Linked DNA regions of Homo sapiens. The protein of the gene in region 4 interacts with the protein of the main gene of each other region in a pairwise test. Each region holds a gene or a part of one and is shown on either strand. Other genes may lie near its edges.

Region 1 (4,511 bases), on a different chromosome or scaffold from region 4:
CAACAGATTCCTTTAGCTTCACAATATTTTGATTGGCAATTTGGGGAAAATTTGTCTCCAAAAAAGATATCATCCAGGTTGGCAGTAGCTTAAAAATGTTACTTTATTAATATTCTTATACAACCACCATTCAGAGGTTACCTTCAAAAATATCAGTTATTTTGTGAGATATAGAGGGGCAGAAGTCTTGGTTGGTGTGTTTATTTTCTTGAAAATTCTGTTTCTACCTCCTTTTGGAACAAGCTCAGCTTCATGAAGAAGAAATAAAAAGTCTTCCTAAAAGAGGTTTTCCTCAGCTATTGGAAATATTAAATAGAAGTATTTTAAAATGCTATATTTAGTTGAATGCATAGGTTTTTCCCCCTAATAGTATTTTGCTGTTTTTAGATGATGATGTATTAAATGATGAAGAGCTAGACAAGGAATTACTATGGAATCTTCAACTTTTGTCTGAGGTATTGTAAATCTTTGGAATAAGAAACATGACTGTGAAAACACTGACTTGCTTTTAGGATTTAGCTCTTTCTGACAAAATGACTTTAAAACATATGAAAAGTCAGAGTTTTGGAAATTTGATGAGGCTTCAGAAGATCAGAATATGTCATACTCTTATTGTCAAAGGAGTGGTGTAGTTGATCACTGCATGTTCAGCCATCTACTTAGTTTTACCAGTTAATTCTAATATGGGTAACTCATTAATTGAAAAAGTTGATCAGATTTGGGAATTTTTTTGGTCTACACTTTAAATTTGGCCATCAATCAAACTTCAGTTTTCTTTTCTTTTCTTTTCTTTTCTTTTTTCTTCTTTTTGTCTCACTATCGCCCACGCTGGAGTGCAGTGGTGCAATCTCGGCTCACTGCAAACTCCGCCTCCCAGCTTCACGCCATTCTCCTGCCTCAGCCTCCCAAGTAGCTGGGACTACAGGCATCCGCCACCACGCCCGGCTAATTTTTTGTATTTTTAGTAGAGACGGGGTTTCACTGTGTTAGCCAGAATGGTCTCAATGTCCTGACCTCGTGATCCGCCTGCCTCAGCCTCCCAAAGTGCTGGGGTTACAGGTGTGAGCCACCGCGCCTGGCCCAAACTTCAGTTTTCTTTTTTTTGAGACGGAGTCTCGCTCTGTCGCCCAGGCTGGAGTGCAGTGGCACGATCTCGGCTCACTGCAAGCTCCGCCTCCCGGGTTCACGCCATTCTCCTGCCTCAGCCTCCCAAGTAGCTGGGACTACAGGCGCCCGCCACTACGCCCGGCTAATTTTTTGTATTTTTAGTAGAGACGGGGTTTCACCGTTTTAGCCGGGATGGTCTCGATCTCCTGACCTCGTGATCCGCCCGCCTCGGCCTCCCAAAGTGCTGGGATTACAGGCGTGAGCCACCGCGCCCGGCCAACTTCAGTTTTCTTTATCATTTTTTTCAGAAGTTTAATTAGGGCCAGGCGTGGTGGCTCACACCTGTAATCCCAGCACTTTGGGAGGCCGAGGCGGGCGGATCACTAGGTCAGGAGTTAGAGACCATCCTGGCCAACATGGTGAAACCTTGTCTCTACTAAAAATACAAAAATTATCTGGGCATGGTGGCGTGTACCTGTAATTCCAGCTACTTGGGAGGCTGAGGCAGGAGAATTGCTTGAATAGAATAGACTCTTTTGAAAGGGATGTTACTATGGTGCATGAAAGCTTAAGCTCAGAAAATGTGTTTGATTTCAAAAAACAATTAATTATTAGAATGCAGTTAAAGTGACAATCCTAAAATTAATTAAAGTCATTTAGAGAAACACTAGGTTAGTGGCCAAACATTGAACTTTGCATTAATGATTGGTTCTTGTTCTTTTAACCAAAATATCTTCAACTATTTTTTCCCTCCTTTTAGATTACTCGAGTGGATGGAAGGAAGTTGCTTCTTTATAGGGAGCAGCTTGTAAAGATTCTCCAAAGAACCCTACATTTAACCTGTAAGCAGGGTTACACTCTGTCTTGTAACCTTTTGCATCATCTTCTCCGTTCTACCACACTTATCTACCCTACAGAATACTGCAGTGTGCCAGGTGGCTTTGACAAGCCTCCTTCTGAATACTTTCCTATCAAGGCAAGCATTTTCAGTACTTTAGGATTCAAGAATATGTTGATTTTTTGTTTTAAGGGATTCAAAGTGTTATTTTTTCTTGCATATGTTAGTTTTTTACTTTTAAGATAGATTATTGAAACTATTATTGGAATATGTGAAACTTGTGCTGTCTCACTTTGCATGGAACTGAAACTCTAGTTTTCTTTCCTATTGATATGTGAAACAACTTCGTATATATTCCTTATCTAATGTCTATAGTTCAATATAATTTTATTGCTAAACTAAGCCTCACTTAAACTCATCATCACTCTTACAGTATCACTCTTAGAGCAAACTCATATTATAATGAGTACTCTTCGGGGAGACTTTTTTCAGGAGTGATAACGAAGAGGCAGTAAGATGTTGTTTTCATGCTACTTTTTTGTATATCATTTGCTACCTTAGGTTTGGATTATGTGTACATTTTCTTTTAAATTTTAAAAATTGTGTATATGTATGTGGGTTTGTTGTTGTTGTTTTTAATTTCTCAACTTGCTGAGTAGATGCTGTTCTCTTCTAGGACTGGGGCAAACCCGGGGACTTGTGGAATCTGGGAATCCAGTGGCATGTTCCTTCTTCAGAAGAAGTGTCTTTTGCCTTTTATCTTTTGGACTCCTTTCTTCAGCCTGAGCTCGTCAAACTCCAGCATTGTGGGGATGGAAAACTTGAAATGTCTAGGTTGGTTTTATTTTATAATTAGAGTTATTCAGTTGCAGACTAAAGAAGTCTTTTTTGGCTTTATCTGTGGCATATCTCATGTATTAATTTTCAATTGTGTTTTGAAAATCTGCTATACATGTACTTAGAAAATCATTTAATATAATGTTGTATAACAGAAAATTTAACAACATTTAAACATTTTAAACCCAAAAATTGTGGGTTTCTTTTTCTAATTTTTTTTATTACCTTCTACTTAGCAATTTCACTTGTCTTTTGGAAGGTGTGTGTAGATATGCCTCCTTTGAAAGGAATGCCTGTTTTCCTAGACTCAGCTAAGATTTTATTGGGTTCTCAAAATTTTATTTTAAGAATTATTTTTATGAGATTTTTTTTTCCCTCTCCCACAGGTATTTAACAAGAAATAAGTATTTGAAACCATTAGACTTTCATAGTTTGAAAGTTTCTAAAATAATAGCAAGAAAATTAATGTATCAAACACCACAAATTTTTCATAAGCAGATTTAAGAATGCACTTGGAGAAAGAAGTGTGACTGACTAACATCAACTCTGTCGTACTCTGAACTGCTTTTTGGAAGTAAATGTTTAGTCCCATTTTTAAAAGATGGAATAAGCTGGAAGATCTTCTGTAGCATTATTTCCTCTTTTTGTTAGTGGCAGTGGTCTTTGGTAAAGGGATGCTTAAATTAACAGTTGTTTCACAAAGGGCAGTTAATTATTGTTACTTGTGATTTACTTAGAGCCTGTTTAAATGTAAGCAGGCATAGTGTTAGCAATAAATATATATTTAATTGTTCTTCACTGTTAAGTTGGTAAACTGAAGACATTTGCTATTTCTTTACCTTAATCATTTATATCCCCACGTGAGAAAACTTCTGTGCTAGGCTCTAGCAGGCTTATTAAATAGGGATTTGGAAATATGAAAATGTCTTTTTTTTTTTTCTAGAGATGATATTCTACAGAGTCTGACTATAGTGCACAACTGTTTAATTGGCTCTGGAAACCTCCTACCTCCGTTGAAAGGAGAGCCAGTTACTAACTTGTAAGTAAAAATAACTGTTTTCCACTTAACATATATTTTAAGTCTTAGTCACTTAATGAGTTATTGGTTTGTTGTTGTTATTGCTTTTATTTCTGTATCACTTTAACCTTTTTATTTGTCACTGTTAAGGTCAAAAATACCAGAGGTACAATTTAGATTTATAAACCTGAAGGCTTTATTCAGATTTTCACATGGTACCAGGATAGAATAACTTTAGGTATTAATTTTAAAATATCAAATGTGGAGATATTAAGTTAGTCTCTTAGTTTACTGAGTTAATTAAGATAAATGCTGTTCTTTTAAAAAGGAAAAATACTGCTTTGTTTTGACTGTAGCAAATGTTGATTCAGAATTTTGTAGCAAAAAACTTTAAAAAAAAAGATTTCTTCAATCTTATTCATTATGATTTTGAATTGGTTTTATGATTTTTTAAGTGCTTTTCAGAGTATTATTACTTCGAGTGAATAGCTAAATTGAATCCGTTGTTAGCTCCGCCATTTAAGGTGAAAAAAAATTAAGTTAGAATAAAATCAGCAGAGGCCCAGTGCGGTGGCTTATGAGGCAGGCGGATCTTTTGAGTGCAGGAGTTTGAGATCAGCCTGGATGACATGGCAAACCCGTCTCTACAAAAAAATACAAAAATGAGCTGGACGTGGTGGCGCATACCTGTAGTCCCAGCTGAGGTGGGAG
Region 2 (4,511 bases), on a different chromosome or scaffold from region 4:
AGTCCTTGCTTACCCCCTCTGAGCTGCACAGCACCCCGCCCAGGAGAACTGCTCGGAAGGTATGCAAGCAGAAGAGCGGGTGGGGGAACCCCTGAGCGCATGGGGGTCACACATACCTGTCTGTGTGAGCTCTCCCATCTCACACAATGGGTGATTTGGGTAAAGAGGCAAGGAGTTCAAGGGGCTTTCGAAAGAGGCTCCGGATCCTTTTGACATGTGACTAATGAAAGCTTCCAGTTTTGGGTGATACGGTTTCCTAGAGAGATGATAGAGAGAGTTAGAGGTCAGAGTGCTCCACAAGAATCCAAACAGTTTCCAGCTTCAGCGAGCCAAATCCCACGTGTATCGCAGCCTTTTGCACCCACAGTAACAGGTACCGGCTCAATCACTTTTCAGTTCCAATTTCATTATTTCTCGACCACTGACACTGACACATGAAATCCCCTCTGTGAGGTTGGCCAGAGTTCCTAACCTCTGCTGAACTCAGTACTGTGGGATTCAGCTTCGCCGTCTATCTTCCGGCTCCCCAACCTGTGCTGCCTTCCGGGCTCGCTCTCCGGGAGGCCGCCAACACCCACCCAGCAGTCACGCCTAGGCTGGGCATCGTCCCACTCTCTCCATTCCCTGCCCCTGCACATGCTGTCTGCTCCCCATGTCTTGCAGATTCTTTCTCCTGGTGCTTCTCCATCCCCTTCTCCTTCATCCTCACAGCTACTACCTAGGTTCTGGCCTCAGGCAGCTTTTGTCTGGCTGGCAATGGGCTCTTTATTGGTCTTCTTGCTGATTAAGCATGCCCCTCTAATAATCTTGCCTTCTCCACCACCAGAAGGATTGATTTAAAAGGTAACTCTGACCAGTCACTGCCCTTCCCTATCACCACCTTCTGGAAGGGGCCACACACAGCCTGTCCCTCTATTCTGGCCTCGCCCTGGTACTCACTGGCCCTCTCTACCCTAATACTGTGCTCTGGCCACGCCAAGCCAAAGGCCTTCTTTCCTCCAACACACAACGCACCTCATTCTTCAACACTTCCACCACTTCCCACGAGCTATCCCTTCCTCCTAGAAAATCTACCCTATCCTTTATCAAGGTCACCCATAATCCTTAATTTTTCTGACCTCTGAAAAATCCCCCTTTAGGAAAATTGTTAACTGAATAAGATAACCAGGATCTCTATACCTCTTTACAATCCACTCCACGTTTTGGACATACAACCTCTCATTTAATATAGGGTAATAATAAATGTCAAAAAAAGTTTATATATGAGATCTGAGAGTATCTATATTTCTGCCACAAAGTATATGTGGTAAATCTTTCTAGTCACTAATATACAATTACCCTGAATAATGAAATGACCTATGAATATAAACATCTTTTCTTTGAATAATGAAGTAGCCTATGAATGTATATACATTTTCCAGCTGAAGAGAAGTGGACAGATAGAGTAGTTCATGCCTAAACTCTATAAGAATCAGCATGAAAAGAAGCAAAGATAAACTGTTCTAATGGCAAACCCCTGCTGTCTGAAGGCCCAGTTAACTTTGAAAGTGCTTTAAAAATGGCTGCCAAAATGGGTTTATTATCTATCAACAACATAAAGCTAAAAAAAAAATCCATCTTTTAAAAATACGTTTTTAAATTAGAGAATACTAATCCAGACATGTAATATAGTCTAATAAATCACCCTGGATAGCTAAAGGGAGTTATGCCTTTCCACAAAAACAGGGTACGTTATTTTGCCTGAGGCTAAAGCACATAAATGTTTGCAAACTGGGAAATAAAATGTCCAGACTGACAATGAGGCTGCCAAGAGTAATCCACATAAACAAAGGCTATCCATCAACAGGAGTCAAATGTTCTGCACCAGGCCATTATTTCAGGTTGGAGCTTTTTTTGAGGATCTGAGAAAGCTTTGCTGCCAATTTTAGAAATGGAATTTCATGACTGGAAGTGTTTGCTGAGGTGACCCAGGTTTTCAGGGCATCTGACTGCTTAATGATATCTAACTGCATTCATTCCAATGTTTTTTATTTTTGTTTTTTTTTGTTGTTGTTGTTGTGTTGTTTGTTTTTGGCATGCAAAGATGAAGATTTGTGGAAGAAAAACTTCATTTAAAGAATAGCTAACAGGCCGGGCATGGTGGCTCATGCCTGTAATCCCAGCATTTTGGGAGGCCGAGGTGGGAGGACTGCTTGGGGCCAGGAGTTTGAGACTGGCCAACATAGTGAGACCATGTCTCTACAAAAAATACAAAAACTAGCCAGGCATGGTGGCGCAGGCCTATAGTCTCAGCCACTCAGGAGGCTAAAGCAGGAGGATCACATGAGTCCAGGAGGTCGAGGCTGCAGTGAGCTGTGATTGTACTACTGTACTCTAGCCTGGGTGACAAAGAGATACCCTGTCTCAAAAAAAAAAAAAAAAAAAAGAAAAAGAAAAAGAAAAAAAACATTTGACAACAAATGGCTGTATCTTTTTAGTGGAAAGCAGACCAGGTAACTCGAGTCCTGGACCTGGATCTGACTACCCAGGCCTTGTCTGCCTGGTCCACTGCTCCATCCCTGGAGCCCAGAGGGTGCTTAGCACATAGCAGATGCTCTAAAAATATATGTGAGTGAATTCAACTGTGAAGTGTCCCATCCTTGGATGTTTCATGAAAATAGCAAGCCTTCCATAATCTGTAGAAATGAATACGATAAGTTCCCATACGGTTTGTTAAAATATTCAGATTTTGATGAAAATATAGTCGGCCCTCCATCTCTTCAGATTCTGCATTGGAAGATTCAACTGTGGATCCAAAAATACTTGGAAAAAACCCAATAAGAAATAACAATACAACAATAAAAATAATACAAATAACAACTATTTACACAGCATTTACATTGTGTTTGGCGTTATAAGTAATCTAGAGATGATGTAAAGTACATGGGAGAATGTGCGCAGGTTCTGTGTAAATACAACACCATTTTACATAAGGGACTTGAGCATCTCAGATTCTGGTATCCAAGGAGGATCCTGGAACCAATCCTCTATGGATGACTGTATTAAAACTAAAGGCTAGTGTGGATGAGACTAGTGTACTAGTCGTACACTAAAATCTATTCTCTTCTTAAGAACTTGGTTAGATCCTATTTCTGAGGTCCTGAAATGAGGTAAAGCCGCATTCGCCAACAGAACGGAAAGATGTATGCCACTTCTGGGTTCAGGCTTTCTGATCATGTGTATGCCCGGTTCACATTATCTTCCTTCCTTCCAGCCATTATTTAGGCATGGCAGCAACCAGGGTTCAACCATGTAGCCATCCCCAGGGGATGGTAGAAACAACAACCTGGAAGAAACCTGGGGCCCTGAATGACCAGGTGGAGCTGACTAGCACAATCTGGAACACACATTTCAGACCTTCACATGAGGAAGAGCTAAACTTCCTTGTTATTTAAGGTAATGCATTCATGAGTCCCTGTGCTACAAAATAAACTTACAAAATAGGTGTACCCTGACTAATGCAGACATAATTATATCCATGAAAATAAATTTTTCTTTAGGAAAAACTCATATTATTGTGGGCTCATTGAAAATCTGCTTTCATAATGAAAACTGAAATAATCAAAAGTGTTACTATCTTAAGCCTTCAAGTCATTCACTTTGGAGTCCTTATCTTCACTTTTATATGCATTATTCACATCTATTTATGCCACAAAGTTTGAGGCTGAACCCCAAGGCTAATCCACACACCCATGAGAACATTTATTGTTTATTTAAAATCTCAGCAATGACTGAGTTCTGCACAGAATGTTAAGGCAAGCAGAAGAGGCAGACGACCAGTGACACTGTTACCAGAAAACACAATCCAAAAGAGCATACATAGCTGGAAACTGGAATCACATTAGATTTTTAAAGTTCATGCCAATTAAAGAATTTATCATCTTACATATTAATAACATGAGATTATGAAAAGATAAGCCCAGTGTACTTTTCTTTGTTTTTAGCTTTCTGGACCTTTTGGTCTTACTTGATGTAATGCATTGCCCTGCTTTCCTTAGCTCTCATAACATTGCTCTCCTGACTTTTCCCCATTTGCAACATCCCTGGCCCCTTTTGAAATCCTTTTTCTCTCTGAGTACCACATGCTGGTGCTTCCCAGGACTCTGGTTTTGGCCCATCCCTCACTCCTCAGGTTCTGTCTGTAATATAAGCCCACAGCTTCAAATGCCATCAACATGCTGAAGATTCTCAACTAAACCTCTTTTTCCCAGCAAGCCAGTGCCCCTGAGCTGCAAAATTATACAGACTAGGCCAGGCAGGGTGGCTCACACCTGTAATCCCAGCACTTTGGGAGGCTGAGGTGGGCTGATCATGAGGTCAAGAGATCAAGACCATCCTGGCCAACATGGTGAAACCCCATCTCTACTAAAAAATAAAAAAAAAAAAAAATACAAAAATTAGCTGGGCATGGTGGCGCGTGCCTGTAGTCCCAGCTACTCGGGAGGCTGAGGCAGGAGAATCGCTTGAACCTG
Region 3 (4,511 bases), on a different chromosome or scaffold from region 4:
CCCCTTTGCCAATCCTGTTAAACTCCCTGCTTTTTTGCTTTGCAGTGCTGTGGAGCATGGTTTCTGCACACCTGGAATGACTGGAACCCCAAAGACTCAAGAAGGAGCTAAAGATCTTGAAGTAGACATGAATAAAACAGAAGGTATATTGCACTAAAGAGTACGTGGGAGAGAGAGTGGCACATTGATTCCACAAAGGCTCTTTGCAGAGGAGTCTGGATCTAGAAAGATGTAGCCATTCCTTGCCTGACCCTGCTGACCCCGACCCCCCACCCTTTTGTTTTGAGACAGGGTCTTGCTCTGTCACCCAGGCTGGAGTGCAGTGGTGCAGTCATAGCTCACTGCAGCCTTGACCTTCCAGGCTCAAGTGATCCTCCTGCCTCAGCCCTCCAAGTAGCTGGGACTACAGGTGCACACCACCATGCCCAGCTCTGTATTTTTTTTGTAGAGACAGGGTTTCGCTATGTTCCCCAGGCTGGTCTTGAACTCCTGGGCTCTAGCAATCCTCCCACCTTGGCCTCCCAAAGTGCTGGAATTACAGGTGTGGGCCACCGTGCCCAGCCTAGGGCCTATTTTCTATTCTTGATAGGTTGTTGAGGTAGCAGGGCAAGTTGTTCACATAATTCAGAGCTCTGCTCTACTGGTGATGTGACACTGGGCAAGTCACTTGCTCTTTGGAGGCCTCATTTGCATATCTGAATGATGGGGGCATTGATAACAGCACCTCCCTGTCAGGTTGGTGAGCCCGAGTGGATAAAGTACCCAGGAATCATCCATGTAGATAGGGTGCGGATATGATCATAGTGATTTATTAACATTAGGCTATAATCATTTTACTGTCAGAGCTAAAGTCAAGGGACATGGTGACATCATAGACAGCTCTGATACCAGTGGGTTGGGGGAGGTCCCCAAACGCCGGTGGGACCTCGAACCCAGCCATTATCCAGGCTCTTGACACCATCGAGAGTGAATTCAAGAAACAAGTCAGAAAATAGTGAAAGTGGGCCGGGTGCGGTGGCTCACACCCGTAATCCCAGCACTGTGGGAGGCCGAGACAGGCGGATCACGAGGTCAGGAGATCGAGACCATCCTGACTAAGATGGTGAAACCCCGTCTCTACTAAAAAATACAAAAAATTAGCCAGGTGTGGTGGCGGGTGCCTATAGTCCCAGCTATTCAGGAGGCTGAGGCAGGAGAATGGCGTGAACCCGGGAGGTAGAGCTTGCAGTGAGCCGAGATCATGCCACTGCACTCCAGCCTGGGTGACAGAGCGAGACTCTGTCTCAAAAAAAAAAAAAAAATAGTGAAAGTACTGAGGTTTATGGCAAATAAAAGTACTTGCATTGCAAAGTACACATTCAAGGAGAGGGAGTGCAGGCGTGCTTGAAAGATAGCATCACACACAAAGGAGTTTGGGGATGCTACCTTTATGGGTCCAAAGGGTGGAATATTCATCTAAATCCCTAGAAAACTGGCCGGGCACAGTTCACATCTGTAGTTTCAGCACTTTGGGAAGCTGAGGCGGGCAGATTGCTTGAGGCCAGGAATTCAAGACCAGCCTGGCCAACATGACAAAACCCTGTCTCTCTTAAAACTACAAAAATTAGCCAGGTGTGGTGGCACATGCCTGGATTATAGTGAGTCTCAACTTATTGCAACCTCTGCCTCCCAGGCTCAAGCGATTCTCATGCCTCGGCCACCCAAACAGCTGGCATTACAGTCATGCACCACCGTGCCTGGCTAATTTTTTTTTTTTAACAAAGCGCCCCAAAGTGGGTGTCTGAAACAGCAGAAATGTATTGTCTCACAATTCTGGAGGCCAGATTACTGAGATGAAGGTGTGGGTAGTGAGGTTGCAGTGAGCCAAGATCACACCACTGCATTCCAGCCTGGGCAACAGAGTGAGACTCTGTCTCAAAAAAACAAAAACAAAAACAAAAACAAAAACAAACACCAGTCATTGGATTTAGGGATCACCCTAAATCCAAGATGATGCCATGATGTCATCTCAAGATCCTTCACTAAATCCACCTACAAAAACCCTGTTTCCAAATACGGTCACAGTCTGAAATTCTGGGTGGACATGAATTTTGGAGGTTCACCATGTAACCCACTACAGTCATTAAAATATCCCACAAGTGTCCAGGTGACACCTCCATGTTTTTGTCCAATTTAAAGCATCTCCACTCCCCCCTGCTTCAGGCTGGGGTCAGGAAGGCATGATAAGGTGCTCTTTGAGTTCCTAGATGCTCTTCTCCTCATCACCCCCATCTCCCCAGGTGGTTTCTTTGTGAGCTGGTGCTGACTCCCAGAGCTGATTAGCTCGGGAAAGTGGGGTTGAAGGGGGCCTGTATGAACTAGGCTTCCCTTGTTGTAAGTTGTTATGAGATTAATTGTGCATCTCCAATTCCTTTGTGGAAGTCCTAACCCCCAGGTGCTCAGAATGTAACCTTGTTTGGGAATAGGATCATTGAAGTAATTTGGTTTTTTTGTTGTTGTTTGGTTTTGTTGTTGTTTTTTTGTTAGTTAGTTTGTTTGTTTGGTTTTTGAGATGGAGTCTCGCTCTGTTGCCCAGGCTGGAGTGCAGTGGTGCGATCTTGGCTCACTGCAATCTCCACCTCCCGGGTTCAAGCGATTCTCCTGCCTCAGCCTCCAGAGTAGCTGGGACAACAGGCGCGTGCCACCACGCCTGGCTAATTTTTGTATTTTTAGTAGATACAGGGTTTCGCCATGTTAGCGAGGATGGTCTCGAACTTCTGATTTGAAGTGATCCACCTGCCTCGGCCTCCCAAAGTGCTGGAATTACAGGCACAAGCCACTGCACCCAGCCTACTGAAGTAATTAGTTAAAATGACGTCATGAGGTTAGGTCCCAATCCAATGTGACCAGTGTCTTTATAAAAGGAGGAAATAGAGACGAACCTGCACACACGGAGAATGTCATGTGAGGATCGAAGCAGAGTTTGCAGTGATGCACCTACAAGCCAAGGAATGTCAAGGATTGCCGGCAACCGCAGCTAGGAGAAAGTCATTGGTCAGATTCTCTCCCACAGCCTCAGAAGGAACCAGTGCTGCCTGCACCTTGATCTCAGACTTGTGGCCTCCAGAATTGTGAGACAATACATTTCTGTTGTTTCAGACACCCGGTCTGGGGCACTTTGTTATTGCAGTCCTAGCTAATTAATATATCAGTCATACCAGTGTCTGTTTTTTTTGTTGTTTTTTTCTTTTTCTTTTTTTTTCTTTGAGACAGAGTCTCACTCTGTCACCCAGGCTGGAGTGCAGTGGCACAATCTTGGCTCACTGCAACCTCTGCCTCCCGGGTTCAAGTGATTCTCCTGCCTCAGCCTCCTGAGTAGCTGGAATTACAGGTGCCCTCCAACCACGCCTGACTAAATTTTGTATTTTTAATAGAGACGAGGTTTCACTATGTTGGCCAGGCTGGTCTCGAACTCCTGACCTCAAGTGATCTGCCGGCGTCGGCCTCCCAAAAGTGTTGGGATTACAGGCATGAACCAGCCTGCTGTCTGTTGATGACTATCTGAACATACATCTCCAGTCCTTGGGTCCTACTACTGGCACCAAGCCAAGAGCCTTTAGAAGCCCATCTATGAGGCCCATGTCTAGTCAAGGGGAAAAAGTAGCATCCCGGCCGGGCGCGGTGGCTCATGCCTGTAATCCCAGCACTTTGGGAAGCCGAGGCAGGCGGATCACAAGGTGAGGAGATCGAGACCATCTTAGCCAACATGGTGAAACTCATCTCTACTAAAAATACAAAAATTAGCTGGGTGTGGTGGTGCCCACCTGTAATCCCCGCTACTTGAGAGGCTGAGGCAGGGGAATCACATGATCCCAGGAGGTGGAGGTTGCGGTGAGCTCGCATGATCCCAGGAGGCGGAGGCTGCAGTGAACTGAGATTGTGCCACTGCACTCCAGCCTGGAGATAGAGCAAGACTCCATCTCAAAAAAAAAAAAAAAAAGTAGCATCCCATCATAGGTGGATGTGCAATTTCCTTCCAACACAGCTGCCTACTCTACCATTGCCATCTACCACCTCCCCAGTAGACCAGGTTCAGTTGAACAAACGCAAGGTTACACACCCAATTCTCCAAGAGGGTCTCTTGGACTTTCTCTCACTTGCCCGTTACTGGGTGGTAGTGAGAAACACACAACAAACCAACAACTGTCTCCAGAGGAAACCCTGTTCTCTTCTTTCTCAGTGTCAACCCTTACTCATCCCCAAAAGAAGTGATAGATACAGGACCCCAAAACTGGTTTTGAATTGGTCCCTTTGCTAGTTCCATTTGGCTGATCTGGGTGATGTCGCTGTGACAGGCAACCCCCTCAACAACCCCCTCAACAACCTCAATGGCTTAACACAACACAAGTGTGTTTCTTACTCATGTTGTGTGTCTGGCATTGGGGGAGAGGGGCTACTTCTTCACATTTGCTCCACCATTTTTGTGACAGGACAATGGACGATGGGGAATTATGCACCGGGTCTTAAATCTT
Region 4 (3,575 bases):
ATCATTAGAAGTGGAAGTCCTGCATTTTAAATTTCTACTTGTTTGAATAATTTAGGACAATGCTTTTCTAGCAGATCTGATTTTTCCCACAAGTCCAGTCTCTTTAGTAGGCCATAAAATGTTTATGATTTGCCCTTGTTTTCTTCCTGGAACCTTTCCCACCTGCTGCCTCTATATAACATACCTTCCTATTAAACTCAGTTACCTCAAGGGCCCTGCTCTTTCCATGCTATCTCATTCCCTCATGCCTTCGCACATACTTTTCTATTTTCCAGGTTGCCTTCCATTCCTTCCCCCAAGCAAAGCTGGTAAATTCCCGCTACTTCTCTAGCCTTCATGAAAATCCTCCTCCTCTGTGGAGCTCTCCCTTCCCAAAGCTGCTGCTCGGCCCTAGATGCGCTCCCCATAATTATGCCCATCATTATATCTATTGTACTCCACTGTTATTGCTAGTGCCCCACAATGTCCCCTTGTTAGGCTGTGAGTAACTTGAGAGTGGGAGTGAGTTCATTTATCTTTAAATTTCCAGTGCCTATACGTATTTGTCACTCAATAAATGTTTTATGAATTTATTTACTTTGGAAAAATAGAATATATGGCTATATAAATGATGACTATTTAGGAAATGGGATTTTAACAACTCATTTGATACGGTTTGGCTGTGTCCTCATCCAAATCTCATCTTCAACTGCAGTTCCCATAATCCCCACGTGTCGTGGGAGGGACCCAGTGGGAGGCAATGGAATCATGGGGGTGGTTTCCCCCATGCCATTCTTGTGATAGTGAGGAAGTTCTCATGATATCTGATGGTTTTACAAGGGGCTTCTCCCTTTGCTTGGTTCTCATTCTTCACTCTCCTGCCACCTTGTGAAAAAGGACTTGTTTGCTTTCCCTTCTGCCACGATTTTAAGTTTTCTGTGAGTCGATTAAACCTCTTTCCTTTATAAATTACCCAGTCTCAGGTATACCCTTTTAGCAGCATGAGAATGGACTAATACACACTTATGTAAATCCTTGAGATTTTAATCTTATCTCTATAATCACCAGCCCAATTAGAACCTCCTAAACTCAGTCTCGTTTATTATTCTGGGTTAGTCAAACCTACATAAGTCTGTAGTGAAACACAGAAATACACAGACCACTGCATGCATCATACCCAACCAGCATTGGGGAGGTCATTTATTGTCTCTAAAATAAAACAAAAGACACAGTGTTTTGTTTCTCTTTTATTGCAACCCACTGCAAGGTCAAAGATTCACGGAAATATAGAAACTACAAACCGGGTGAATTTTCTTTATCCACTCAAAAAGACATTAAAGACAAAGGACCAGAATTTTCCACTACAGCAATATATTTCATAGTCTTTATTCTGAAAATACTGTTGACATTTTGGAGAGAATAAAAAGCCCTGCATTAAACGTGTTCACATGTATTTATGACATTCTAAGCAAAAAAAAGAAACTCTATATTGCCCAGAAAAATTATTTTAAGCCTCATTTCAAAGCATCTAATGAGAACACATTCAACAACCATCACAGGACCACTCAAGGTGATGCTTTTTTCTGGCTGTTTTTTTTTTTTTTTTTTTTTTTTTTTGAGATTAATGCTTTGAGGCTGGATATGGTATTTCTACGGATTTCTACAAATGTACCAAAGCAGTTTTCCAGATTATGTTGCATCAGGCTTTCTGGATTAGTCAACATTTTAGAGAATAAGTGCAAGTCCCCACCCCACCCCCACCCCCCCAAGCTAAAGCATGTTATAGTGCTGTACTTTAGATTCAAACAATGCAACATTTAAAAAAATCAATTATACATTCTGAAACCATTTGACAACCAAACTGTAACACTCCAAAGGTTATTACAACTTTGAACTGAAATGGTACCATCTATATCATAGATGGCTCTCCCTTCTTTTGTCTTTTTTAACTATTTAAAATATAGTATGACATATATAAAAATTAAACTTTTGCATATTCACTCAAGCTACTATTACTATACATACTGTCTTATAAATTAGTTTTGGATTAAAAATCAGTTAAAATATTGTGAAATAAGATATTTCAGTGGTGGGGAAGTGGATATGAAAATGATACAGTTCAATGTGTAAGAAGAAATATAGTTTATTAATGTTAAACAGCTTTTTTCTTACACAAATTTTATTCCCTTCAAATTAAATTAGAAACCCATTTAGTTATGGGAAGAATACTCATGGCGCTTACTGACTAGATTTTCCTAACCGATTGGGATTAAAACAAAAATGCCACATCAGAAACATGTTGACATAATCAAAGGAAACAGTTGTTTACAAAAAAAGAGAATCATTAGAAATCAGTAAATGGCATTCAAATGTAAAGCTATCTTGTTTCTTACAGCTAATGTCATGTTAGCAATGTGAGACTTAAAGAAAGTGAAACTCAAACCTCAGTATATCTGTTAAAGACCAAATAACAGTTATATTCACTCAGGGAAAAATAAATAGCAACTTCACAAGTTAGGGTTTTGTTTCTAGTTCTACTGTGAAAGATAATCACTCTTTAGCTTAAAAAGGCTCCCTGATGTCCTCATTATAAATCTAGACACAGGAACAGTTATTTGAGCCTGAGTCCCTATTATGAATTAATTGTAAAGATGTGTTAAATCAAAACATATATTCATTTACTGATAGGTCTTGTCTTAACTGAAGCTGGCAATCCTTAATTAAACAAAGAAATGCTTATTTCTGACAAGTGTAAACAGAATTTCAATGAACAGATTTTCTAATTTTCTTTCTTAACTCATATATTAGCTAGCAATAGATCTTTGCAGTAGCATGAGAACTAGTCCAAAATGACAACATGCATATATCCAAAAAACCTGTTCAAGAACCCAAAGCAAAGCAAAAAGAGCAACAACAGTAGAAAGATTGTCTACTTATATCTCACTCATGAATCTTCTATTAATGTGACTACCCTCTCGTATCTCAGAAATAGACTTTAATAATTACCAAAATTAAGAAAATAATGAAATGATCTGTAGTTTTTAAAATAACTGCACACCATTAATTACATTGGTGGCTTCAATGCTAAGATTAGTTTCAAATATCATTAAAATATATCCTGACCAGTTACTATCCAGGAAATAAAAGCTAACACAATGTTAACATAAAACCAACTAAAATATTTAGTGCTCAACAGAATGCATTTGTAGAATAATGTATAATTAACTTTCGTGAGCTGGCCAGGAGAGTTCAGACTGTTGCCTCTATATAACAAATTTAGAAAAGGCTTTATTCTTTCTAGTCCCCAAGTCACCCACCAGATAGCAAGTTGGCCACCCGAGGATACACGGAGTTAGGCAGTGCCACAGTGGATAACATGCTACCTTAGTGGCCTGGAAGAAGGCTTCTCTGTCAGGAAACGATCTAGAGTAGATCAGAGCCCTGGTGTAGATGTGCACACGTGTGAATATGTGAGAGAGTGTAAGTGCCTGTACGTATAACATCACTTCTGCTGTAGTCATCATCAGTAGAAGTGCACAATTCATCCCATGTAAAAAGAAGGCCTTCTTACTTGGACATCTCCAAGTGGCAGCAAT
Region 5 (4,511 bases), on a different chromosome or scaffold from region 4:
TCACAATCCCAATCTCACCTTCATCCACTAGATAATTTATTTTATACATCCTGTATAACAGTAGTCTCTGTGCCTTCGGTGGGCTCACAGTGAAAGAGTGTAAGTTAAATAAAAAATTACAATATATTGGCTAAAGTCTGTCCAGGGGCACGTAAAATGTGCCACGAAGCAGAAAGAAGGGACTCCCTTCACCCAGGGATGACCAGGAATGCACCTGGTCATTAACTGAAGAGACAGGAAATTGAAACCAAGTTATCAGCTGTGCACATGCACAAATCCTGAGAATCCTCAAGTGCCAAAATCAGTGAGTTGGCCAAAATGTGTAATTTGGTGTACGGAATGACAGGAAACACTGGCTAGGGCTATAATTGTGAGGGAGCATTGTTTGCTATTTTAAGGAGCTTGAACTTGACCTTTGGAGGTGCCACTGATATACTTTAAGCAGGAAGTAATATAATCTGCTGATTTTTCCTTGGTTCCAGAGGAATAAGATGGGAAGTTAAGAGTTTCTTAACTTCTGCTTCTACAGTAGATAACTAGAAAAGTGGAAGCATTAAGAGAAGAGAGTAAATCCCAAAAACGACAGAGACAAAAAGGGCAGGAATGGAGGGGAGTGAAGTAATATTGTCAAATACTACAGTGGGATCGGGTCAGACGAAGCCTGAGTTATCCTCTGAACTGGGCAATGCAGAGCTCAGAGTGACTGTGGTGGAAATAGTTTTGATGCAGAGGTAGGGCAGATGCCAGGTGCCATCAGTTACTCTCAGAGCACACAAGAGTCAGTATGGCTGACTACATGACACCTAAAAATGCTAGCTGGGAGCAGAACTAAGACAAAATCCCCATTACCTGGTTCTGTATTAGTGATCATTAAAAGTCCACAAGACTCCATGAATAGTCATTAAAATCTTAGATGTACCAGTAAGCTGTGAGTAACCTGTTACTTACTTTGCTGCTATAACTGCAGTGATCGGAACTCTGAAGAGCGGACCTGCGTTAGGGGATGCTATATCATAGCCACATACCTTGAAAAAAGAATCGGTAAGTGTCAATATCCATAAACAAATGTTTAAAAGAGCGGGGGAAGGTCTAAACTACTGACAGAATAAATCAATCTACTTTTAATCAAGGTCTTAACCAGAGGTTGACACCAATTTCCTGACACTAGGTCACATAATTAATAGCAAACAGCCCAAACAAATGTATAGCAACATTTGACCAGTTGAAATGGGAAAATGAGACGTCAGGTACAAAATAAGTGCATTTTAATTACTCCCAACTGAAAAATTAGCTCAAACTAGTACTACAGACAACTTTAGATGTGGAGATACTGTTGTGATACTATTCTATGCCTGGTTTACAACTATTTGTTTAACAGATGCTTTCTTCATCTGAGTACTAAAAGGTATAACTGGCTGGGTGTGGTGGTTCACACCTGTAATCCCAAAGCCCTGGGAGGCCAAGGCAGGAGGATCACTTGAGGCCAAGAGTTCAAGACAAGACTGGGCAACATAGAGAGATCCTGTCTCTACAAAAATAAAAAAATTTAGCCAGGCTTGGTGGTGCACGCCACTAGTCCTAGCTACTCAGGAGGCTAAGGTGTGAATATCACTTGAGCCCAAGAGTTCAAGGCTGCAGCGAACCACGATCACACCACTGTACTCCAGCCTGGGCAACAGAGCAAGACTCTGTCTCTTAAAACAACAACAACAACAACAACAAGCAACTGCAGCTTTGTTTAGCTGACAAAAGAAAACACCAGTTAGAGGGAGATCTAATTGAAAGGTTCTGCTGTACCTCTTCTTTCCTTTTACTTATTCATACAAGGACAAAATATGATTCTTTAGAAACTCACTGCTTAAATGAATATAGACACACCAGAAGAACTGAATAACCTGGCAGATGGATAGGTCTAGTTATTTCTTAGCAAGAAAGCAATATATTGCAAATATACTTTGGATTTTTTTTTAACCTTTTAAACATTTTAAAGAGTGAAGAAAGTAAAAATGAAGATACATCAATACCTCTGTATAATGCAATCCTTCTCTTAAGCCCCTGGGATCCACACGTATGTTTATGTGTCTACATTGATTCATGAGTTCCAAATGGCTGGGACACTGAACCCAAGATGAATTTGAAGTCAGAGCTAAATGAAGCTGAAGGGATATTTTTTCAGAGTTTTCTGGCACGAAAAAGACCAAAAATTAAAGATGAGTATTTTTTTCCTTTTTTCCATTTAAAAATGTTACATCTTTCCAAAAAAATTTAGCGACTTGGTTTGGTTGGCTGTAAAATGCATCCAAAACACAGCTTAAATAAAACAGTCAAATAATCTTCCTTACAATTTAGATTACTCATGATTCATTTATACTTTCACCAAGCACTGGTATGACCTTAAAATAAAGAGTTTAAGTGAATGTTTTCATTACTGCACACAGGTCATAGTATTCAACTGAAATGAAGACAGCCAGATAATAGCGATGATTATTTTTGTTCACACCTAATCGAGCTGCAGTTCTCCTAGACTGCTTCTACTTTTCATTCTTCAACAGAAAGCTCTGTCTTATACCTAAGTAGGTAAAGTGGAAAAGAAATTTGATATTTTATTATCCACAATTTAATAAAGCTGTGGGTCACTGAGGCTCATTCTACTGTTTTCCCTGGTAGTTTAAGATGCTAACTAAATTGCCATTGTACAAGGACCCCAAATTGCTCTAATATTTTCTCTTATGACTAAGATTTAAAATAATCATACTGTCAATTCATGTATTCTCTTCACAACACTGGCCCAAACAGCAATTCTTTATTATGATACCACTCATTCAAACAGCAAATGTGAATACGTCAGCTTACTGCCAGCCTATTACTGACCTGTGTTCTCCGGAAATACAGGTTCAATGCCAACGCCATGATCTGAAGGTGCAGCCACCTGAACAGGATCTCGGAGGTAGATGCCACGGTTATTTCCAACAGTAACAGTAAAACCTAATTTATTAGCAAATGATGTATTCTGAACGAGGTAGTCATAGGCTTTATCAACCTAGTGAAAATAATATACATGGTAAGATATAAATGGTTGGGTCAAAAAATATTTTGTTGCAAATTACCAATCAATTTGATTTCAGTTGTAAAACAAAAAGTTAGTGTCTATATTCACCTCTCAAAACTACCTAGTACCCCAACTAAGAGGACAATTCTACATTTTTAGAAACAACACCAGTCACATCTTCCACTCCACTCTATTCACACTGTTATTCTCAAGTGACCAAATTTAGGAACTAATCCCTATGCCGTTATGATTGGCCAGTTTTTGACCTCGATTTCTTTGAATTTCTAACCTCTACATGGCCTCCATCTATTACATTTCTTGATCTTAGTGCAACAGATTTGTCTTAACTACAAAATTTGTTTGTGTATCCTTTTTGCTTGTAGTTCTATGGCCATATAATCCATAATTCAGATATACTGAATCACTGTTATAAAACAAAATATTACCCAATAATATCTAAGATATTATCTCAATGATGCTTTACAACCCATTTTTCATATAGGCAACAATACCTGAATAATACCATGTCCTTGAGCAAATACTTCTATATTGTCAGCCTTCACTGCAGTGTTTTCTAGAGCTCTTCTGACTGAATGAACTGTGTAGTCAATGTTATTAGCTTTCAGACCTAAAATTAAGAAACAAAAACAAGTAGTGTAGCACTCACTATCTGAAACCTTAGCCGCCCACCAGTATGATCGATCACCTGTAGACCCTCTGGTGTTAATGTCTTGTGTTCTAACACTCATTTTAAAATCTTTTTTGAAGACCTGAACTAAACAGTCTGACTCAAACTGCTTGCATTACATGAAGGCTTCATTCCACAAAAATCACTGTGTTCTCATTATGTGGTGGGCAGAGAGACTGGTGTGGGCTTTGTGGCGTAATATAAACGTACAAAGCAGATATCTAAAAGCATGTGAATGACATTTTCTTTCAAACACTGCTGGGTTAAACAAGATGGCTGTTGGCTGTGGTGTTCAACCCAACTGTATGTTATAAACCCCAGGGGAACTCAAGCAAAAAAGATGCTGAGGTCTCATGACAGACCAATTAAATCAGAATCTCTGAGGACTGTCCCAGAGATTGTTATTTATTAAACAACTCTCAGATGATTCTAGGGTACAGCCAGGTTGGGAATTACTGTTTTATGGGAAGAATATGGAGGCCACCAATTCATAAGATGAGTGCTGTATCATTCTTGTCCTCTCCAGAGCTCATTAAACACATAAACATTGATGATATTGTCAGACATCAGAGGAACTGACAGATAAGCCGCCTCTTAGAGAATGTACAGGAGTCTGCAAGGCCACAACATGGCAGACAGGACTTCGAGGCAGAGTGCAGTACACCCAAAGATGGAGGCCAAGAGGCCTTGAAATACCTGGTGAGGCTGAAGAGAACTAGAAAGAGGGTCATGTTAGGATCCATCCTAAGAGTGTGGGCTCAACCTAGAGAAGGA
Region 6 (4,511 bases), on a different chromosome or scaffold from region 4:
CCAAGTTAGCCAAGACCCCTGACCGCACAGAATGTATAGTTTAATTATATTCACAAGAGTAGCAGTTTTAATGCCAGCTCTATTGAGTATAGTCATTATGTGAAAACTAGTAATTTGTATATGTTTTGTCTTCTAAACAGAGTAACTAAGGATACTTAATTCATGTTTATATCCCAAATTTATTCCTTAAAGAATTTCAGTAGCTTACAAAAACTCAGATAATTCAATAGCCTAAAGTAGGAGAGGAAATGAGAAGAAAAATAAGAGCTTACAAAATAAGGTAAAGACGGAAGTGGGGCCAACGAAGAAATCTAAGCTGAGGAGTTTGGTACCCGTGCCAGAGGCAAGCCTGCTGCCCTGTCTCTCAGTTTCCTAGCAGCAGAGATCAGGTAGGTGGTTCATGTAGCATAAAGATCACAGCAAACCCACTGCTTGGATGAGAACAATTGTTCCTGGCACTGAGACCAAGGAGCCATTTCTCCTATAGTCTTTGTAAAGAGGGCACTGTGTTTAGTGACTGAGTGAAGACATCAGCTATACAACAGGGAGTTTTGTAGGGCTGAGTGTTACAACATCACTCAGAGGAGGCTGGGGCTGGAGGCTCCGGTAGAAGACAGTAAGCACTTCACTCTGTTTCATGAGGGGTCAGGATGAGGTCAGCCAAGAATTCCTCTTTTTGGTGATCTGGCTTAATCCAAGGATAGATAAATGTCTGGAATTTCTAAGAAGAAAGAGGGGCTGCATAAACTTCACGCAATCCTCTCTACTTGTTCTCTAAACGAGCTTTTCCTAAGTACTGAAACATGGTGAGTCTCATCAGAAGACAAGAACCTTGGTCTGAAAAAGTGTGAGCCAAGATGTGTTTGAAGCTTCCTGTGGAGATCTCAATGGGGCATCAAATCATATAAACAGTGGGAGCCGTTTAAGAAAATGTTTTATATGAGCTTATCTCCAGAGTTCTTTTTGAAAGAAGTGAGCTTAGGCCGGGCGTGGTGGCTCACGCTTGTAATCCCAGCACTTTGGGAGGCCGAGGCGGGCAGATCACGAGGTCAGGAGATAGAGACCATCCTGGCCAACATGGTGAAACCCTGTCTCTACTAAAAATGCAAAAAAATTAGCCAGGCGTGGTGGCAGGCGCCTGTAGTCCCAGCTACTTGGGAGGCTGAGGCAGGAGAATGGCATGAACCTGGGAGGTGGAGCTTGAAGTGAGCCGAGATCACGCCACTGCACTCGAGCCTGGGCGACAGAGCGAGACTCCGTCTCAAAAAAAAAAAAAAAAAGAAAGAAAGAAGTGAGCTTAAATTTCTCTTTAGCCTAAAAACAGACCACTTTCTGCAACAAACTTGGATGTCAGCATAAAAAATGCAATAAACTGTTTTACACTGAGCAAGTGTCCAAGGACTGTGTAGACTCTAGAGTATCCTACAAGCAGAAGAACTTAACAAAGTACCTTTACAATATTTAAATAGCAATGCATTTTTATTGGAATTTGGAACTAATGGGAAATAACACATTAAAATGATACATGAAAAAGCAGCAGACATCTATTTTGGGTCATCTCCCTCCACTCCTTGCTACATGCCCTGCTCATACATCTCTCTGTGATACCATGTCTCTGGCTTTTTCTCAAGGGAAGCCTTGACCAGGCACCCAACTCAACTTAGAAGTTCTTCTTTTAGCTCCTATAGCACCCATATGAGCATTTCTCATCCAGTCTTGGTTTTGAATCTTTAGGTTTCTGTAATTGAAAGTCGGTTTTGGGCAGAAGCTTTGTTACATACATCTCAGTTTCCCTGTACCTGACCATGTGTTTCACACAGAAGCATACTACTCCGGAAATGCTGAGTGGGTAAATGACTGAAATAGACCATTCTAGGGCTATGTTTATGTAAACATGCAGAATCTTAAGGCACCCTGCTCCTGCCATTCAAGAGACAGCCGCATCTTCTCATGCAGTGCTAGCCACATCCCTGGTGAAGGTGAAGGCCAAAGTAAAAAGATTTGGCAGTATCGGGCGCTGGTCACCAGGGCTGCTTTTAACTCTGGTAAAGCAGATGTTCTCACCATCAGTGACCCCTTCCTTGACCTCAACTACATAGTCTACATGTTCCCATATGATTCCACCCATGGCAAATCCCATGGCACCATCAAGGCTGAGAATGGGAAGCTTGTCATCAATGGAAATCCCATCAGCATCTTTCAGGAGTGAGATCCCACCAAAATCAAATGGGGCCATGCTGGTGCTGAGTACATTATGGAGCCCACCAGTATCTTCACGACCATGGAGAAGGCTGGAGCTCACTTGCAGCAGGGAGCCAAAAGGGTCATCATCTCTGCTGCCTCTGCTGAGGCCCCCATGTTTATATAGGCATGAACCATGAGAAGTATGACAACAGTCTCAAGATCGTCAGCAATGCCTCCTGTACCACCAACTGCTTAGCACCCCTGGCCAAAGCCATCTATGACAACTTTGGTATCATGGAAGGATTCATGACCACAGTCCACGCTATCACTGCCACCCAGAAGACTGTGGATGGCCCCTCCGGGAAACTGTGGCATGAGGGCTGTGTGGCTCTCCAGAACATCATCCCTGCATCTACTGGCACTGCCAAGGCTGTGGGCAAGGTCATCCCCGAGCTGAACAGGAAGCTCAATGGCATGGCCTTCCATGTCCCCATTGCCAATGTGTCAGTTATGGACCTGACCTACCGTCTGGAGAAACCTGCCAAATATGATGATATCAAGAAGGTGGTGAAGCAGGTGTCAGAGGGCCCCCTCAAGGGCATCCTGGACTACACTGAGCACCAGATTGTCTCCTCCAACAGTGATACCCACTCTTCCATCTTCCATGCTGGGGCTGGCAATGCCCTCAACAACCACCTTGTCAAGCTCATTTCCTGGTGTGACAACGAATTTGGCTACAGCAATATGGTGGTGGACCTCATGGCCCACATGGCCTCCAAGGAATAAGACCCCTGGACCACCAGCCCCAGCGACAGCATGAAAGGAAGAGAGAGGCCCTCAGCTGCTGGGAGTCCCTGCCCACACTCAGTCCCCTACCACACTGAGAATCTCCCCTCCTCACAATGTCCATGCAGACACCCTGAAGAGGGAGGGGCCTAGGGAGCCCCACCCTGTTGTATACCATGAATAAAGTCCCCTGCGCTCAGCCAAAAAAAAAAAGGTGTGGGGGGGAAAAGAATTTTAAGTGTTTTAACTGATATGACCAATCTGTTTGGCTGAAAAGTGAATCATACTAGTTTGCCATAGTAAAGATTAATCTTAGATTTTTTTGGACGGGCGTGGTGGCTCACGCCTGTAATCCTAGCACTTTGGGAGGCTGAGGCAGGCGGATCCCCCGAGGTCAGGAGTTCGAGACCAGCCTGGCCAACAGGGCGAAACCCCACCTCTACTAAAAATACAAAAAAAATTAGCTGGGTGTGGTGGTGCATGCCTGTAATCCCAGCTACTCCGGAGGCTGAGGCAGGAGAATCGCTTGAACCCAGGAGGCAGAGGTTGCAGTGAGCCAACCTCTCACTGCACTCCACTGCACTCCAGTGCAGTGAGCCAACCTCGTGCCACTGCACTACAGCACTCCCTCTCAAAAAAAAAAAAAAAAAAAAAGGCCTGGTGCGGTAGCTCACGCCTGTAATCCCAGCACTTTGGGAGGCCAAGGCGGGCGGATCACGAGGTCAGGAGTTTGAGACCATCCTGGCTAACATGGTGAAACCCCGTCTCTACTAAAAATACAAAAAAAATTAGCCGGACGTGGTGGCAGGCACCTGTAGTCCCAGCTATTCGGGAGGCTGAGGCTGGAGAATGGTGTGAACCCTGGAGGCGGAGCTTGCAGTAAGCCAAGATCGCGCCACTGCATTCCAGCCTGGGCGACAGAGCGAGACTCTATCTCAAAAAAAAAAGAAACTTTGTTTTTTTTTTAAAGTATAGACTAACTAAAATTTTCCACTTTCCAGTTGATGGCACTGTTAGAATAGAGATGGAGCTTTAGATTCTCAGATGCAAACAGCTCCACACCAATGGGATCCACTGGCCGTGTAGTTATAATTTGCCGCTTTCTTGCTAATTCCCTAAGAAGCACAGACAGATTCTTGAGGTTAACACCCCTTGAAAAACTATCAACTTATAAATTAAACTGACTGTTCAAAGCCAATATTAGGGCTATATCTTTTTATAAAACCAAATACAATGGATTAACAAATTTAGCTCGAAGATTTTAAAATAAGAAAATTAAGAGAAAAGTAATATAGAAAGTATATAATTGCCTGATAACCTAATCACAATCTAAGTAGTAGCTAAAATTTCCTGTCATTCATACTCAATGTTAAGATCTTCCAAGACCACCTTAGAAACTGCTCTTGTATGGTTTCTAGGAAAACTGCACACAACTTAATTTTAAAAGTCCTCTTCCAGAGAGAGATCATTGGAGGCATGAGCAACTTAAACAGCAGTCAAATGGGGGCCCTTGAGTCTTGTCCATTTGTTGTATAGTGCTG
Region 7 (4,511 bases), on a different chromosome or scaffold from region 4:
ACATACAAAAATGCAAGAGGAATGCAGAAACATTTACGGAAGGTTCATCCATACCATTTCAAGCCCAAAAAGATAAAGACGAAAGATCTGTTTCCCTCTTTGGGTAATGAACATAATCAGACAACTGAAAAGTTGGATGCAGAACCTAAACCCTGCTCAGATACAAACAGTGACTCCCCAGATGAAGGTCTAGATCACAATATTCACATTAAATGTAAACGAGAACATCAAGGTTATTCCTCAGAATCCTCCATTTGTGCTTCTAAAAGGCCCTGTACAGAGGATACCATGTTGGAACTTCTGTTACGCTTGAAACATTTAAGCTTGAAAAACTCAATAACACATGGATCTTTCTCAGGGTCATTGCAGGGGTACCCATCCAGTGGTGCTAAGTCTCTTCAGTCAGTTTCATCTATCTCAGACCTTAATTTTCAGAATCAAGATGAAAACATGCCAAGTCAGTACCTTGCACAGTTGGCGGCTAAGCCGTTTTTCTGTGAGCTTCAAGGATGCAAATATGAATTTGTGACCAGAGAGGCTCTGTTAATGCATTATCTTAAAAAGCATAATTATTCAAAAGAAAAAGTCCTTCAGTTAACCATGTTCCAACATCGGTATTCCCCATTTCAGTGTCATATTTGCCAAAGGTCATTTACAAGAAAAACACACCTTAGGATTCATTATAAAAATAAACATCAAATTGGCAGTGACAGAGCAACTCACAAACTATTAGATAATGAAAAGTGTGATCATGAAGGCCCATGTTCAGTAGATAGGTTGAAAGGTGATTGTTCTGCAGAACTTGGAGGTGATCCCAGTAGTAACTCTGAGAAACCACACTGTCATCCTAAAAAGGATGAATGTAGTTCTGAAACAGATTTGGAATCATCTTGTGAAGAAACAGAAAGTAAAACATCTGACATTTCATCACCAATAGGCAGCCATAGAGAAGAACAAGAAGGAAGAGAGGGCAGAGGTAGCAGGCGAACTGTTGCTAAAGGAAATCTGTGTTATATTTTGAATAAATACCACAAACCATTCCATTGTATTCATAAAACTTGCAACTCCTCATTCACCAATCTAAAAGGCTTAATTCGCCATTACAGAACTGTACATCAGTACAACAAAGAACAGTTATGTTTGGAGAAAGACAAAGCAAGAACCAAAAGGGAACTTGTCAAATGTAAAAAGATATTTGCTTGCAAATATAAGGAATGTAATAAACGCTTCCTGTGTTCCAAAGCTCTTGCTAAGCACTGTAGTGATTCTCATAACCTAGACCATATTGAAGAGCCTAAAGTACTTTCCGAAGCTGGATCTGCAGCAAGGTTTTCTTGTAACCAGCCTCAGTGCCCTGCTGTTTTTTATACATTCAACAAGTTGAAGCACCACTTGATGGAACAGCATAATATTGAAGGGGAAATACATTCAGATTATGAAATTCATTGTGATCTTAATGGCTGTGGCCAGATTTTCACCCATCGCAGTAATTACTCACAACATGTATATTACCGACATAAAGACTATTATGATGATTTGTTTAGAAGCCAGAAAGTAGCAAATGAGAGACTACTAAGGAGTGAAAAGGTATGTCAAACAGCTGATACTCAGGGGCATGAACATCAGACCACCAGGAGATCATTTAATGCTAAGTCTAAAAAATGTGGCTTAATCAAAGAAAAGAAAGCCCCAATAAGTTTTAAAACCAGAGCTGAGGCCCTCCATATGTGTGTGGAGCACTCTGAGCACACACAGTACCCCTGCATGGTTCAAGGATGCTTATCTGTGGTGAAGTTGGAGAGCAGCATTGTGAGGCATTACAAACGCACTCATCAGATGAGTAGTGCCTATTTAGAGCAACAGATGGAGAATCTTGTTGTTTGCGTTAAGTACGGTACCAAAATTAAGGAGGAACCCCCTTCTGAAGCAGATCCCTGTATAAAGAAAGAAGAAAATAGAAGCTGTGAATCAGAGCGCACAGAACACAGCCATTCCCCGGGTGACAGTAGTGCACCCATCCAGAACACTGATTGCTGTCATTCAAGTGAAAGGGATGGAGGTCAGAAAGGGTGCATAGAAAGCAGCTCAGTATTTGATGCAGATACTCTGCTCTACAGGGGAACTTTGAAATGTAATCATAGTTCCAAAACCACTTCCCTAGAACAGTGTAATATAGTTCAGCCTCCTCCTCCTTGTAAAATAGAAAATTCCATACCTAATCCCAATGGGACTGAAAGTGGGACTTATTTCACAAGTTTCCAGCTGCCTTTACCAAGGATCAAAGAATCAGAAACTAGGCAGCATAGTTCAGGGCAAGAAAACACTGTAAAAAATCCAACCCATGTCCCAAAAGAGAATTTTAGGAAACATTCACAGCCCCGGTCATTTGATTTGAAGACTTACAAACCTATGGGATTTGAATCTTCATTTCTGAAATTTATTCAGGAAAGTGAAGAGAAAGAAGATGATTTTGATGATTGGGAGCCTTCAGAGCACTTAACATTAAGTAATTCTTCACAGTCCAGTAATGATTTAACAGGGAATGTTGTGGCAAATAATATGGTGAATGACAGTGAACCTGAAGTTGACATACCTCATTCTTCCAGTGACTCTACAATTCATGAGAACCTGACTGCAATCCCACCTTTAATAGTAGCTGAAACAACAACAGTTCCTTCCTTGGAAAACCTGAGGGTTGTATTGGACAAAGCATTAACAGACTGTGGAGAGCTTGCCTTAAAACAGCTTCATTATCTTCGGCCAGTGGTGGTTCTTGAAAGATCTAAGTTTTCCACACCAATTTTAGACTTATTTCCAACAAAAAAGACAGATGAGCTTTGTGTAGGAAGTTCATAAGTAGCAATTTTGTTTTAGTAACAGACTGGCTCCAACACTGCAACATGGGGACATTTGCCAACTCGAACAAAGGCTGAGAAGCAGCCACACCGTTGTTTAGGGTAGAATAGGCTGTGTATTTACATGAATGTATAATATCTATGTCAGCAGTATTGGCTGAGTCCATTAGCTCTCCAGTTGGTTTAATGATTGGGTTTATTTTTGTTTGTTTGTTTATTAAAAAAATGGAACTGTACACTTGTTTGGTGCTAATTAATACATCAAAATATACTGGGGCTTCCTTTTTCAAATTAAGTGTGCATGATTGTATATGGAACAAATACTAAGGTCCCAGGGTGGGAGGGCTAGGGAAAGGGATATGGAGTTCTTACTTGACTTGAATGTGCACCTGAGGGTGCTTTGTGTAATATATTGTACACTACAGCATCTTATATTTTTTGAGTTGAGTTTCAATAAATTACAATTTTTCACCCATTCGTTGTTTACTCATAATGAGCTTTCATGCCACATGTAAACTGAAATTGCACTTGTATTTTCTGAAATATGCCATTCACATTTTACCCCAGTAATTTTTTTATTTATTATTAGCTAAATCATTCAGAACAAGGTTCTTTTTTTTTTTTTTTTTTTTAAGACAGAGTTTCGTTCTTGTTGCCCAAGCTGGAGTGCAATGGTGCAGTCTCGACTCACTGCAACCTCCTCCTCCCAGGTTCAAGTTATTCTCCTGCCCCGGCCTCCCAAAGTGCTGGGATTACAGGCATGAGCCACCGTGCCCATCCCAGAACAAGGTTCTTTTTATCTTAAAATTTTTGTTTTTGTGGAAAGATAATTCTGAGATTAATTAGCTGCGGGAGTCAAGATAGCTCCCAGAGGATGTCCAGATGTTGGCCGAGTAGAAAGGAGAGGATATGCCAACCTAGAACATGAAGGACGTAGCAAATTCAGAGGGCATGTTTCTAGGAAACTACAAATAATTTGATATGCTGGCAATAAAAGGGGAACAAGAGAGTGACATCATTGTAGAGATAGCAGGAACTAAATCATGAAGACTAAGGAGTTTGGATTTGAGTCTATAGGCATATATCAGTTGAAGTGTGGAGTGCTCACTTGATTTGAGAAGCTGAAATTGGAAACAGTATACTTGAAGTAATTGAGGCAAGCTTGGTGAGTGTATTTACTGACAATTGCAGCAGAAGGCAGAGTAGATGAAGTATTTAAGGAGACAGGATTTTGGGGGCTTGGAGAGTGAAGGAAAAGATTTGGTACTGATGCAACCATTTTAAGTAGGTATACAAAGAAGGAATGAATATTTGGGAAGATAATGGAAACCAAGGTGAGTTTGGCTTTTAGATGTGTTGAGTTTCATTGGACTGTGGGATGTCTGTCTAATGAGGATAGCAGTATATCCTTTTAATACAGCAGCTTCATTTCCTGTTGCTTGTGAAGTTTTCAACTACTTTCATTAGCTAGTAATGAAGTGACTCAGACAACTAACATCTCTTTCTCATCCTTGTGGTTAGATTTTTTTTTTTTTTCAACGGAGTCTTGCTTTGTCGCTCAGGCTGGAGTGCAGTGGCGCGATCTCGACTCACTGCAACCTCCGCCCCTCCAGGTTTAAGCAGTTCTCTGCCTCAGCCTCCAGAGTAGCTGGGATT

What was found.
Region 1: the proteins of FBXL17 (region 4) and PSME4 interact in a two-hybrid assay, tested with the Homo sapiens proteins (one large-scale study listed by BioGRID).
Region 2: the proteins of FBXL17 (region 4) and PXYLP1 interact in a two-hybrid assay, tested with the Homo sapiens proteins (one large-scale study listed by BioGRID).
Region 3: the proteins of FBXL17 (region 4) and ACSBG2 interact in a two-hybrid assay, tested with the Homo sapiens proteins (one large-scale study listed by BioGRID).
Region 5: the proteins of FBXL17 (region 4) and TPP2 interact in a two-hybrid assay, tested with the Homo sapiens proteins (one large-scale study listed by BioGRID).
Region 6: the proteins of FBXL17 (region 4) and TASP1 interact in a two-hybrid assay, tested with the Homo sapiens proteins (one large-scale study listed by BioGRID).
Region 7: the proteins of FBXL17 (region 4) and RLF interact in a two-hybrid assay, tested with the Homo sapiens proteins (one large-scale study listed by BioGRID).

Annotation. Positions count from the first base shown.
Region 1 is NC_000002.12:53,918,461-53,922,971, reverse strand, and holds part of PSME4 (proteasome activator complex subunit 4), read left to right. Parts: intron 1-387; coding exon 388-455; intron 456-1,867; coding exon 1,868-2,083; intron 2,084-2,621; coding exon 2,622-2,779; intron 2,780-3,725; coding exon 3,726-3,821; intron 3,822-4,511. UniProt on the Homo sapiens protein: Associated component of the proteasome that specifically recognizes acetylated histones and promotes ATP- and ubiquitin-independent degradation of core histones during spermatogenesis and DNA damage response.
Region 2 is NC_000003.12:141,283,059-141,287,569, reverse strand, and holds part of PXYLP1 (2-phosphoxylose phosphatase 1), read right to left. Parts: intron 257-4,511; coding exon 117-256; intron 1-116. UniProt on the Homo sapiens protein: Responsible for the 2-O-dephosphorylation of xylose in the glycosaminoglycan-protein linkage region of proteoglycans thereby regulating the amount of mature glycosaminoglycan (GAG) chains.
Region 3 is NC_000019.10:6,141,468-6,145,978, forward strand, and holds part of ACSBG2 (long-chain-fatty-acid--CoA ligase ACSBG2), read left to right. Parts: intron 1-45; 5' UTR 46-76; coding exon 77-143; intron 144-4,511. UniProt on the Homo sapiens protein: Catalyzes the conversion of fatty acids such as long chain and very long-chain fatty acids to their active form acyl-CoAs for both synthesis of cellular lipids, and degradation via beta-oxidation.
Region 4 is NC_000005.10:107,857,822-107,861,396, forward strand, and holds the end of FBXL17 (F-box/LRR-repeat protein 17), read right to left. Parts: 3' UTR 1,214-3,575; downstream 1-1,213. UniProt on the Homo sapiens protein: Substrate-recognition component of the SCF(FBXL17) E3 ubiquitin ligase complex, a key component of a quality control pathway required to ensure functional dimerization of BTB domain-containing proteins (dimerization quality control, DQC).
Region 5 is NC_000013.11:102,634,753-102,639,263, reverse strand, and holds part of TPP2 (tripeptidyl-peptidase 2), read right to left. Parts: intron 3,678-4,511; coding exon 3,562-3,677; intron 3,041-3,561; coding exon 2,872-3,040; intron 2,183-2,871; coding exon 2,025-2,182; intron 1,026-2,024; coding exon 949-1,025; intron 1-948. UniProt on the Homo sapiens protein: Cytosolic tripeptidyl-peptidase that releases N-terminal tripeptides from polypeptides and is a component of the proteolytic cascade acting downstream of the 26S proteasome in the ubiquitin-proteasome pathway.
Region 6 is NC_000020.11:13,390,705-13,395,215, forward strand, and holds part of TASP1 (threonine aspartase 1 isoform 1 precursor), read right to left. Parts: intron 3,174-4,511; exon of another isoform or gene 1,910-3,173; intron 1-1,909. UniProt on the Homo sapiens protein: Protease responsible for KMT2A/MLL1 processing and activation. It also activates KMT2D/MLL2. Through substrate activation, it controls the expression of HOXA genes, and the expression of key cell cycle regulators including CCNA1, CCNB1, CCNE1 and CDKN2A.
Region 7 is NC_000001.11:40,237,592-40,242,102, forward strand, and holds the end of RLF (zinc finger protein Rlf), read left to right. Parts: coding exon 1-2,856; 3' UTR 2,857-3,330; downstream 3,331-4,511. UniProt on the Homo sapiens protein: May be involved in transcriptional regulation.